Regions from separate parts of the Homo sapiens genome. Here regions 1 and 2 are each reported to be linked to region 3. Evidence: microRNA targets listed by miRTarBase, many of them from high-throughput screens and not tested one by one. Region 3 holds a microRNA gene; each other region holds the end of a gene's coding sequence.

Region 1 (3,352 bases), not on the chromosome of region 3:
ACTGGAGAGAAGCCTTTTAAATGTAGTGAATGTGGGAGAGCCTTCAGCCAGAGTGCCTCTCTTATTCAACATGAAAGAATTCACACCGGAGAAAAGCCCTATAGATGCAATGAATGTGGGAAAGGCTTTACTTCTATTTCACGACTTAATAGACACCGAATAATTCATACTGGAGAGAAATTGTATAATTGTAATGAATGTGGTAAAGCCTTAAGCTCCCACTCAACACTTATTATTCATGAGCGAATTCATACTGGAGAAAAACCATGTAAATGTAAAGTATGTGGAAAAGCCTTCAGACAGAGTTCCGCTCTCATTCAACATCAGAGAATGCATACTGGAGAAAGACCCTATAAGTGTAACGAATGTGACAAAACATTCAGGTGTAACTCATCGCTTAGTAATCACCAGAGAATTCATACTGGAGAGAAACCATATCGATGTTTAGAATGTGGGATGTCTTTTGGCCAAAGTGCAGCTCTTATACAACATCAGAGGATTCATACAGGAGAAAAACCCTTTAAATGTAATACATGTGGAAAAACTTTTAGACAAAGCTCATCACTTATTGCACATCAAAGAATTCATACTGGAGAGAAACCCTATGAATGTAATGCATGTGGGAAACTCTTTAGCCAGAGGTCATCCCTTACTAATCATTATAAAATTCACATTGAAGAGGACTCCTTAAAAGCCGATTTGCATGTGTGAAAGCCTTAAACCAAAACTCATCAGAGAATACATGCTTGAGAGTGATTTATTAAATATAATGAATATGAGAAAACTCTTAGTTCTCATCAGATACTAAGTTTTAAGAATAAACTTTAGCTATGTAATAACTTATGGGAAAAGCTTTTATACTTGTCACTCACTTTTTAAAATATCCCGAGACAGTTCACTGTTGCAGACATTGAAATTGGCCATTTGTAAGATAAAAGGTATGTTTATAAAATCTCTTTATATAATATATGCTATCTATGACATGCAAAAAAGAAAAGTCTGGGTGCTGAGGTGCTGAATTTTTCATTAGAAAAACATTTGTATAAACTACTATTATATAAATATAAGCATATTTATTACAGCAAACATTTTAATAGCAAACAAAACAATTGATCTTAAAAATATATGCAATATATACTTACCTGGCAGGGAAGATTACCATGATCACGAAGGTGGTTTTCCCAGGGCAAGGCTTATCCATTGCACTCCAGATGTGCTGACCCCTTCAATTTCCCAAAATGTGGAAAACTCAACTGCATAATTTATGGTAGTGGGGGACTACATTCGCACTTTCTCCTGAAATATATATATATATGCAGTATTAGAGCAAAGGACCAATAAGAGATAAAAACTAACTGAACTACCTCTTAGTGCCTGGAATTTACCTTTTCCTGACTTACTGTCAAACTTCGTGCATGGCTTTTATTAAAAAAGAAAAAATCTGTTCTCTTCTTTGTTGTAGTCATGTCCAAACAACATCTAATAGCCTCCCATATTTTCTATACATTTCCTAGTTTTGTTTTCAGAATTTTTTCTTTATTGTCTTGAAGTCATATTTATTATGAAACCATACTTGCTATGCTCTGAACAGTAATGTTAGATAGTTTAGGTTGAAGCATTTTGTTTGTTTAGGCAATCACTTCAAGGTTAAAGCTATTAATATTTTTTTAGTTGGCTGCAGATGAAATCCTAATTGTTTAAAGAGCCTATCACTTGTGACAGTCTTCAGAAGGAATCAGTTTATGAAATAAAAGTTTTTTTTCCTCGTGGGGTTTTAAAAGTTTCAGACTGCAAAGGAAATTCTTTAAAAATAATTGTAAATTTCAAAACTGATTTACTTAGAAATGTTTGTTTAAGCCTGAGTTTGGGCCAGATATTATCCTGAGCGCTAGAAATTGTATAGAAGAAAGAAACAGACCTTAAAGAAGTCATGAATTGAGTGGGTGGAGAAGAGGAGGTTAAAGGGAGTAAGCAAATCATAATGTGTTGGGGTTTTCACAGATAAATAGTTAAGCTGTGATGCTGTGTTGCAGAATACAAATGGAGAGATTTGCATGGGATGCAGAAATATGGAAGACTAACCAAGCAGACCAGGAGAGACCAGCAATAGTGTCCCAGAGACCATGATGTCTGAGCCCAGTTTTGGAAGAATAGTAGGTATTCTTCATGAAGTGAGATCCTGAATAGAGGGAGCCACATATGCAAAGGTGTAGGGTGGGTGGGTGACAGCATATTACATTTGTAGAGAATCTATAGGAAGTAATGAAAAAGAAAAGCTTGAGAAGAAGGCAGTGGCTAGGTAACAAAAGGTCTTACTTGCCAAACTAAGGAATTTGAATTTTATTCTGAAATTTAGGGTACTAAGTAACGACTTTAAGTGATGGAAACTGTATTGCACGAATGTGTAGAGGATGAATTTAGGAGATTGAAGACTGCTGAACAGACTGAAGCCTAGAATTCAGCCTCCAGTGATGGGTGAAGGAGGCTCTAAGCTCAAGCAAGGATAGTCAGTGAAGAATATGTTGCACATGCTAATGTAGTAAGAATAGATAAGGCATAGTTTTTGCAATCAAATAATTGGGGAAGGTGATTGACACACAGGGTAGATTAACTTTACCTGGATGGATGGTGGTGTGATATGCCTTGTAGGCAATATAGGGGTAAACAGTTTGATTTTATACATGTTAAATGAGTCATCCAAACCCAAAAGGTCAATTTGAGCTGGATGGCTTGAGTTAGGAGTAATTAAGATATAGTTAGTGAAAAGCTTGGCACATGTAAATTGGCCATGAGAATGTACAGATTAGAATGAGAAAGGGATCATGGATACAACCCAGGAAAACATCAATATACAAGAAGTAGATGAAGGAATTGTGCAAAGATGAAAAGGAATGGCCCTGTATGTAGGAGAAAAGGCAGAAGAGTGATGTCACTGAACCCAAGGGATAAATGAATCTCAGATGGGCAGTAGTGTCAGGTGCTATAAAGGAAGTAATAAGGAGAGTAAATTGGTAAATGAGATAATTGTAGACTTTGGCAAGAGAAATTTCACTGAAGGAGGGTGAACAAGTAGGCTGTTGAAGACTATTTCAAATATAATTGAAGGGAAGAATGACTTAGGGACCATTTCTGGTTTAATAATGTATGCACATGTTGAGGGTAGATTAAAGAAGACATTGCTGGGAGGAACAACTTTTGTGAAATAAATTGGAGTCATAGCATAGGTGGAGGAATTAACCTTAATTTCAGGGATGGAAAAGCCCACATAAAGAAGGGAATACAGATAAGTGATTTGGAGGTGAAGGAATTTTCTGCCTGCTGACTCATTTTCTCTAAGGAGAAAGACTTCATT
Region 2 (3,000 bases), not on the chromosome of region 3:
CACGTCCAGTGCTCTCAGCCTGGAATCCTCTTCCTTCTTCATTCACCTGTTCAGTTTATTTCAAAATTTGAGGGATTACTAGGTGTTACACTCTTACTGGGCCCAGGGATTACCTCCTCCAGAGAGCCTTTCTGACCCTTCCATTAGGGGCTCCTCTTCCCCATGGCTACTGTACCGAGGTGGACCTCTGAGCCCCCAGATCAAGACGGTCCCTTGAGCACAGAAACCAGCTCTGATTCATCTCTCTGTGCTTGGCACCAGCCTCGTTCAGGAAACACCCATAGAAGGCACCATCTTCTTACGGAAGAGACCACCTCTGGGGCAGACAGATCCTGGTTGGGATTCTAGATCTGCACTTGATAGCTTGGCCAAGTTCCTTTCTCTCTATCAATTTCCTGGAGTAAAACAGCCTGCCGAGTCTAAATATGAGGTTCTAAACTACCTGGCTGGTTTGCCAAGATAGTCATTATCCCCTTAACCCCAAGGGAGAGCAAGGAAAGATAGGCCACTTAATATCTGGTGCTTTGTAGTCCAGGGACCTAAGGAAGGTGGGAGGAGAAGAAGTTACAGTGAGATTCATCTTTATCTGCCCCAGGCTTAGGTCCTCCTCTCCCTCCTAGTCCTCAGTCACCTAGAATACAGAGCCTGAAAACAAGAACTAAGTACTGGTGTTTTATTTGGAGAGGTGCAAACCCAAGGCATTGGAAGTGAGAAAATGGAAGAAAGGCGGGAAAGAATGGGAAGTAACGTAAGGTGATGTATTTAATAGGCTGGGGTGGGCACTGCTTCATGACAAGCCTTGCAGAGGTCACAGTAGTTCTGTCCACCGGCTACTTGGGAGGCCTCCCCATTGATGGTACTGTTTTGGAGAGTTGGTGCCATGCAGCAATTTATGAAAGGCAGGGGAAAAGGGGGAATTGATTTGCCTGAGTCTCACCTATCTCCCATTTTCCACTAGTCAAAAAAAAAATTTTTTTTTTGAGATGGAGTCTTGCTGTCACCCAGGCTGGAGTGCAATGGCACAATCTTGGCTCACCGCAACCTCCACCTCCCGGGTTCAAGCCATTCTCCTGCCTCAGCCTCTCGAATAACTGGGACTACAGGCGCACGCCACCATGCCTAGCTAATTTTTGTATTTTTTGTAGAGACAGGGTTTCACCATATTAGCCAGGCTAGTCTCAAGACTCCTGACCTTGTGATCCACCCGCCTCAGCCTCCCAAAGTATTGGGATTACAGGCGTGAGCCACTGCGCCCGGCCTCAAATTTTATCCCATAAATATTAACTCCCAGCCAGACACCATGGCTTATGCTTGTAATCCCAGCATTTTGGGAAGCTGAGGTGGGCAGACTACTTGAAGCCAGGAGTTTGAGATTAGTCTGGCCAACATGGTGAAACCCCGTCTCTACAAAAAATACAAAAATTAGCTGGGTGTGGTGGTGCTTGCCTGTAATCCCAGCTATTCAGGAGGCTGAAGCAGGAGAATCGTTTGAACCCGGGAGGCAGAGGTTGCAGTGAGCTGAGATCACACCACTGTACTCCAGCCATGGTGGCAGAGCAAGACTCTGTCTCAAATAAATAAATTTCCCCACACTTCTAAGTTTGCTAGCAGCAACTTGGGATGCCAGATCCCATGCCCTATGCCAGGGCATTCCATCCAAGTCTGTAAAGTGGTGGGAAGAAACAGAAACTCTGGGTACATGGCCAGTGAGTGCCAGGGAGAATGATGCAGTATATGTGCCACGTCTAATACAGTACAAAACTAGTTTTTTCATTTTCTGGAAGAAACAAAGCATAGTGATCCAAGAACTTTCTCAAGGTCACATGGATATTAAGTGGCAAATTCAGGATTTGAAAATAGTCTGGCTCTGGAAACTGGATTTTATGTAGCAAGCAAAGGAGTCACTAAAGGGTTTTAAGCTGGGGAGCGACAAGAAATAAAGAGCATTTTAATGAAGCTCCCAGTCTCTACTGTGCTCCACATTCGCATCTGACTAAACTCCAGCAGAAGCAGGTGGCCCCAGAGAGGTTAAGGGCATCCGAGACAGGGTTTGAGGAGTCTCTGGCTCCAGAGCTCCGTGTAGGCTTCAACACTGACCCATAATCTTCCTGTCTTCATCTAATCCTACACCCACCAAAGAGAAGAACTGGTCAGAGGCAGGTAGGATCTGTGTAGAAAAGCCAGAATGAGGCCGGCTGCGGTGGCTCACGCCTGTAATCCCAGCACTTTGGGAGGCCAGCGTGGGCGGATCATGAGGTCAGGAGATCGAGACCATCCTGGCTAACACAGTGAAACCCCGTCTCTACTAAAAATACAAAAAATTACCCGGGCCTGGTGGCACGTGCCTGTAGTCCTAGCTACTCGGGAGGCTGAGGCAGGAAAATCACTTGAACCTGGGAGGTGGAAGGTGCAGTGAACCGAATTGCGCCACTGCACTCCAGCCTGGGAGACAGAGTGAGACTCCGTCTCAAAAAAATAAAAAGGAAAAAAGGAAAAAGAAAACCCAGAATGAGGAGAGGAGACTGACCTAAGGACCAGCAGCAGGAGGACTGTCCTGCTCTCCATTGTTGTTGTTGGCCTGTGGGTCTGAGGGTCCCGGCCGATGAGTCTTCTGGTGTTGCTTGAGATGGTCAGACCTCATGAACTCCCGGCTGCACTGATCACATTTATATGGTCGATATCTGGTGTGTACCCGCATATGTCGTCTAAGCTCATCAGAACGGAAGAAAGACCATGAACAACTTTCCCAGTTGCAAGAATATGGCCTCTCACCTGGGAATGACAAGGGAGAGATGGAATTTAGAATACAGTAGGAAGGAAGGGGTCTAACTCTGTGAGGCAGAGCAGTCCAGGTTGAGGATTCAAAAGGGAAGGTCCAGGGAACCAGGGAGGGGCAACACAATCAGGAGTGCCCGCCCCAGTCATCTTGGCACAGTCCTCCTGTATGGCAAGTCGGGGGGCCAGTCTAGCTTAGTTCCAAGCTTGGAAGATGAAAGGCTC
Region 3 (3,352 bases):
TTGGCAAGCTCAATGATGTTTTCATTCCAATCAGTGCTGAATACAAACAGACCCTTATCCCTAAATTGTGAAATTTAGAGAAAAGTAGAGTCTCAAGGTGCAAAATTTGAACCTCACAAAATTTAACTAAACCGAAGTTTGGGATATAGTAAGAGCTCAAGGAAATGGCTTCTAATTGCTCATTGGGAATAGATTTTTGAGATTAAAACAAATTTTTCAAACCTGTCCAGACTCAGAGGCTTGGGAGTGAACAGTTGTCACTTAACTTTATGGCAGTGGTGGCTGGAAGCTCGCCCACCCTGATTCTTTGTTCTCCCTCCCATAATTGCTCAAACTGAGAGGTCTGTAGGCACCTTAAGGATTCAAAGTGATTTGTGAAAGTTGTAAAGTCCAAGCCTCAACTAGAGAGTTGTTCTTGGAGGTAGGAAGTTTGAGGGACTTAAAATGAACTGGGGGGAAAAAGGCAACAGAGGAAGAGTGAGAACAGAGAGAGAGAAAGGCTCAGAGGAAGGAAGATAGGGGAGGGGGGGAGAGAAGGAGAGAGAGAACGTGAACATTTCCTGGTGATTTTAATTTTCACATCACAAAACACCGCACGTCTGTCAACCGTTATATTTCCTGTGCAGCCTTCTGTGACCACATGGAGTACCTCAGGGAGGGAAGAAAATAGAATTCATTCCTTTCTACCCCCAGCCTGATCTGCCCACAGCTGTTTGGGCACAAAGGAAGGAGGGTAGAGCTCTGGAAAATTGCCAAGAGCGCCTCCTCTCTCCAAGGGGAATGACCAATTTTCACCGCCACTGGAAGGGTGTGAGCTGTCCCAAACTGCCCTCTGGGATTATGCTTACTCGGTTCCACAGGAACATTTAGAGAGACAGAGGTTGCCTTGGGTTATCAGGGCCACAGGCTTCCTGGGTCTGCTTTTGGCACCTAGGATTCCATGAAGAGGGACTGACAGAACCTGAGAGCTGAAAAGCACCTCAAGAAGTCATCGGTCCAGTCTTGCCTCTAAGGACTCTCCATCTCAATCAGCAGGACCCTCACCCAGTCAGCAATGGATCAAACGTCCCAGCTTCTGGGGCCAAAGACAGGCCTCTGCCTCCATGCTCCTAGTCCCTTCCTTGAAGCGGTCGGATAATCACATGACGAGCCTCAAGCAAGGGACTTCAAGCTGGTGGCTTCCAGCAGCTAGCTTCCTGCTTCCGAACCATCATTGCCTCCTATTGAAGTCCTCCCATCCTCCACTCCCACATCTATCCAGGCCCTGGGAAACTTTGCCAAGAAGCAGATGATGGCGTCTGCCTTTGCCTGGGTGATGAGATGACTGGCTTCTGTCCCAGTTCTGCCACTCACCAGATGGATCAGTTTCTCATTGCTGTTATAACAAATTACCACCAACATAGTGGCTTAAAACAATGCAAATTTACTATTATACTTTTGGAGGTCAGAGGTCCAAAACAAATCAGTTTCACTGGCCTAAAATCAAGGTGTCAACAGGGCTGGATGCTTTTGGAGGCTCTGAGGGGAGAATCCATTACTTTGCCTTTTTCAGGTTGGCCACCTGTATTCCTTGGCTCATCACCCCCTCCTCCATCTTCAAAGCACATCGTTTCAATCTCTTTCTTAAGGTATCTTGCGGAGGAGGTCCCAGAGGCACCAAAGGGGTGACAAGCACAGATTGCTTTAACTGCTACTCAGAGAATGACTCTGCGCCAAGCCCTGTGCTGAAGGCTTTACACTCACAATCCTTGATATACACATGGAGCTCTTGTCATCACATCCCTTTTTCTTCTGTCTGTGCCAAATCTCCTTCTGCCTTCCTCTTATAAGGACACTTGTGATTGCATTCACAGCCTTCCCAGATAATCTAGGACAACCTTCTCACTTCAAGATCCTTAACTTAATTACATACACAAAGTCCCTTTTGCCATATAAAGTCATATTCACAGGTTCCAGGGGTTAGGATGTGGACATCTTTGTGGGCCATTATTTAGCCTACCATACCAGTAATAGGTCTTTGGCAAGTAAAGTCACCTCACCTCTCTGAACCTTACTTTCCTCATTTGTTCAGAGGGGAGAAGACTCCTGCCCTGCTGACTTCCTGGGCGCCCTAGGAGGTTCCAGTAAGAGAGTGAATGTGATGACATTGTATGCTGTTGAGTGAACACCAGAATAAGTGCTGAGCCTGGTTCTTGTTGCCCTTCTTATGAAGCTGTGGTCCCCTCAGTTCAGTCACCCAGTGCTATCTTCCTCTCTGGAGCCTTTCCTCTGTGGCCTTTTCCAGGCATGTCTTGATGAATGTACTCCAAGTTAAATGTGTCACTAAGCCAACTGGCTCCTCCTACCCTCTCCCAATGATTGAGCGTATAGAGTGGCTATGCTGACTTTGGATCCCAGGCACTGGCAAGTGAACACCTTAGTTGGTTAAAATATCCCTTCCCACTCTGCTGTGTTATGGTTTCAGTGAGACCCATGTGTATATGAAGAAGATTGTGAGTGTAGAGCCCTCAGCACAGGGCTTGGCACAGAGTTGTTGTTCTCTGAGTGGCAGTTAAAAATGTCTGTGCTTGTTGCCCCTTTTGGTGCCTCTGGGACCATCCTTTACCCCCTCCTCTGCAAGATACCTTAAGACCACAGCTAGCAGTCACAGCAGCAAGTGCAAGCACCTTTTGACATTTATGCCATCCTGGCCCTCTGCCAGTTGCTATCCATATCACTTTGGTTGGCCAAGCCCCATTGTCAGCCTCAGCTGGCCAGCATTCTTGGAGACAGGTCACAGTTTGTTCAACAGCTGATAAGAGGTGTGTAAGGGGCATCAAAGGCTCTGAATGGAGAGGTGGAAAAAGCCCCTGGGTGCATGGCCCTGGATGACTCTTGGGGTTTAGAAGAGACCACGGAGATGACCAATGACCAACAAGCTTTCAAAGGGAAATGCTTGCCTCTACCAAACTCAGGGGAAGTCATATCTTCTATCACCCCGGCGGGGGGCTTCAGTTAAGCTTGTGAGAAGCTGAGAGCAGAAAGACCTTTTCTGAACCTGATGTTCCCACCCCTCATCATGCCACTGTGGAGACAGGATCTACAGGGAACAGGGAGAACTTGGCCATTATTTCCCAAGACAGCCAGGCTGGCAGCTTCCACTACAGGTGCTGCTCTTCTCATTCCTGATCTTCTGAGCACACCATCATTCCCCAGGGCCTTCCACAGCCATCTTCTCTGCTGGGGTGTCCCATAACCTTTTTATGAGTCCCAGATGACCTTGATTCCAAAACCTGACAAGGATATTGCAAGAAATGAACATTATAGACCAATTCCTCTCATGAACATAGTTCCACAAACTCTTAAGATATTA

The links. Region 3 holds the annotated microRNA hsa-miR-2114-5p (UAGUCCCUUCCUUGAAGCGGUC, at 1,111-1,132, shown strand). A microRNA usually pairs through its seed, bases 2 to 8, with sites in the 3' UTR of a target mRNA and lowers its output. Matches are read on the target gene's strand: a 7mer-m8 pairs with bases 2 to 8, a 7mer-A1 pairs with bases 2 to 7 and ends in A, and an 8mer does both.
Region 1: miRTarBase lists ZNF354B as a target of hsa-miR-2114-5p. Seed matches in the 3' UTR shown: 7mer-A1 at 1,275-1,281.
Region 2: miRTarBase lists KLF17 as a target of hsa-miR-2114-5p. The part of its 3' UTR that is shown has no 7-base or 8-base seed match.

The regions. Positions count from the first base shown.
Region 1 is chr5:178,883,581-178,886,932 of GRCh38, forward strand. It overlaps ZNF354B (zinc finger protein 354B), which reads left to right. Exons shown (of 5, transcript NM_058230.3): 5 at 1-1,440. The coding sequence ends at 711. It also overlaps the pseudogene RNU1-39P. Among named protein-coding and RNA genes, the nearest start is that of ZFP2, 11 kb to the right of the region's middle.
Region 2 is chr1:44,130,284-44,133,283 of GRCh38, reverse strand. KLF17 (KLF transcription factor 17) reads right to left here. Exons shown (of 4, transcript NM_173484.4): 3 at 2,528-2,772; 4 at 1-46. The coding sequence ends at 2,528. Among named protein-coding and RNA genes, the nearest start is that of KLF18, 9.8 kb to the left of the region's middle.
Region 3 is chrX:150,226,906-150,230,257 of GRCh38, forward strand. MIR2114 (microRNA 2114) reads left to right here and starts at 1,099; the gene lies at 1,099-1,178.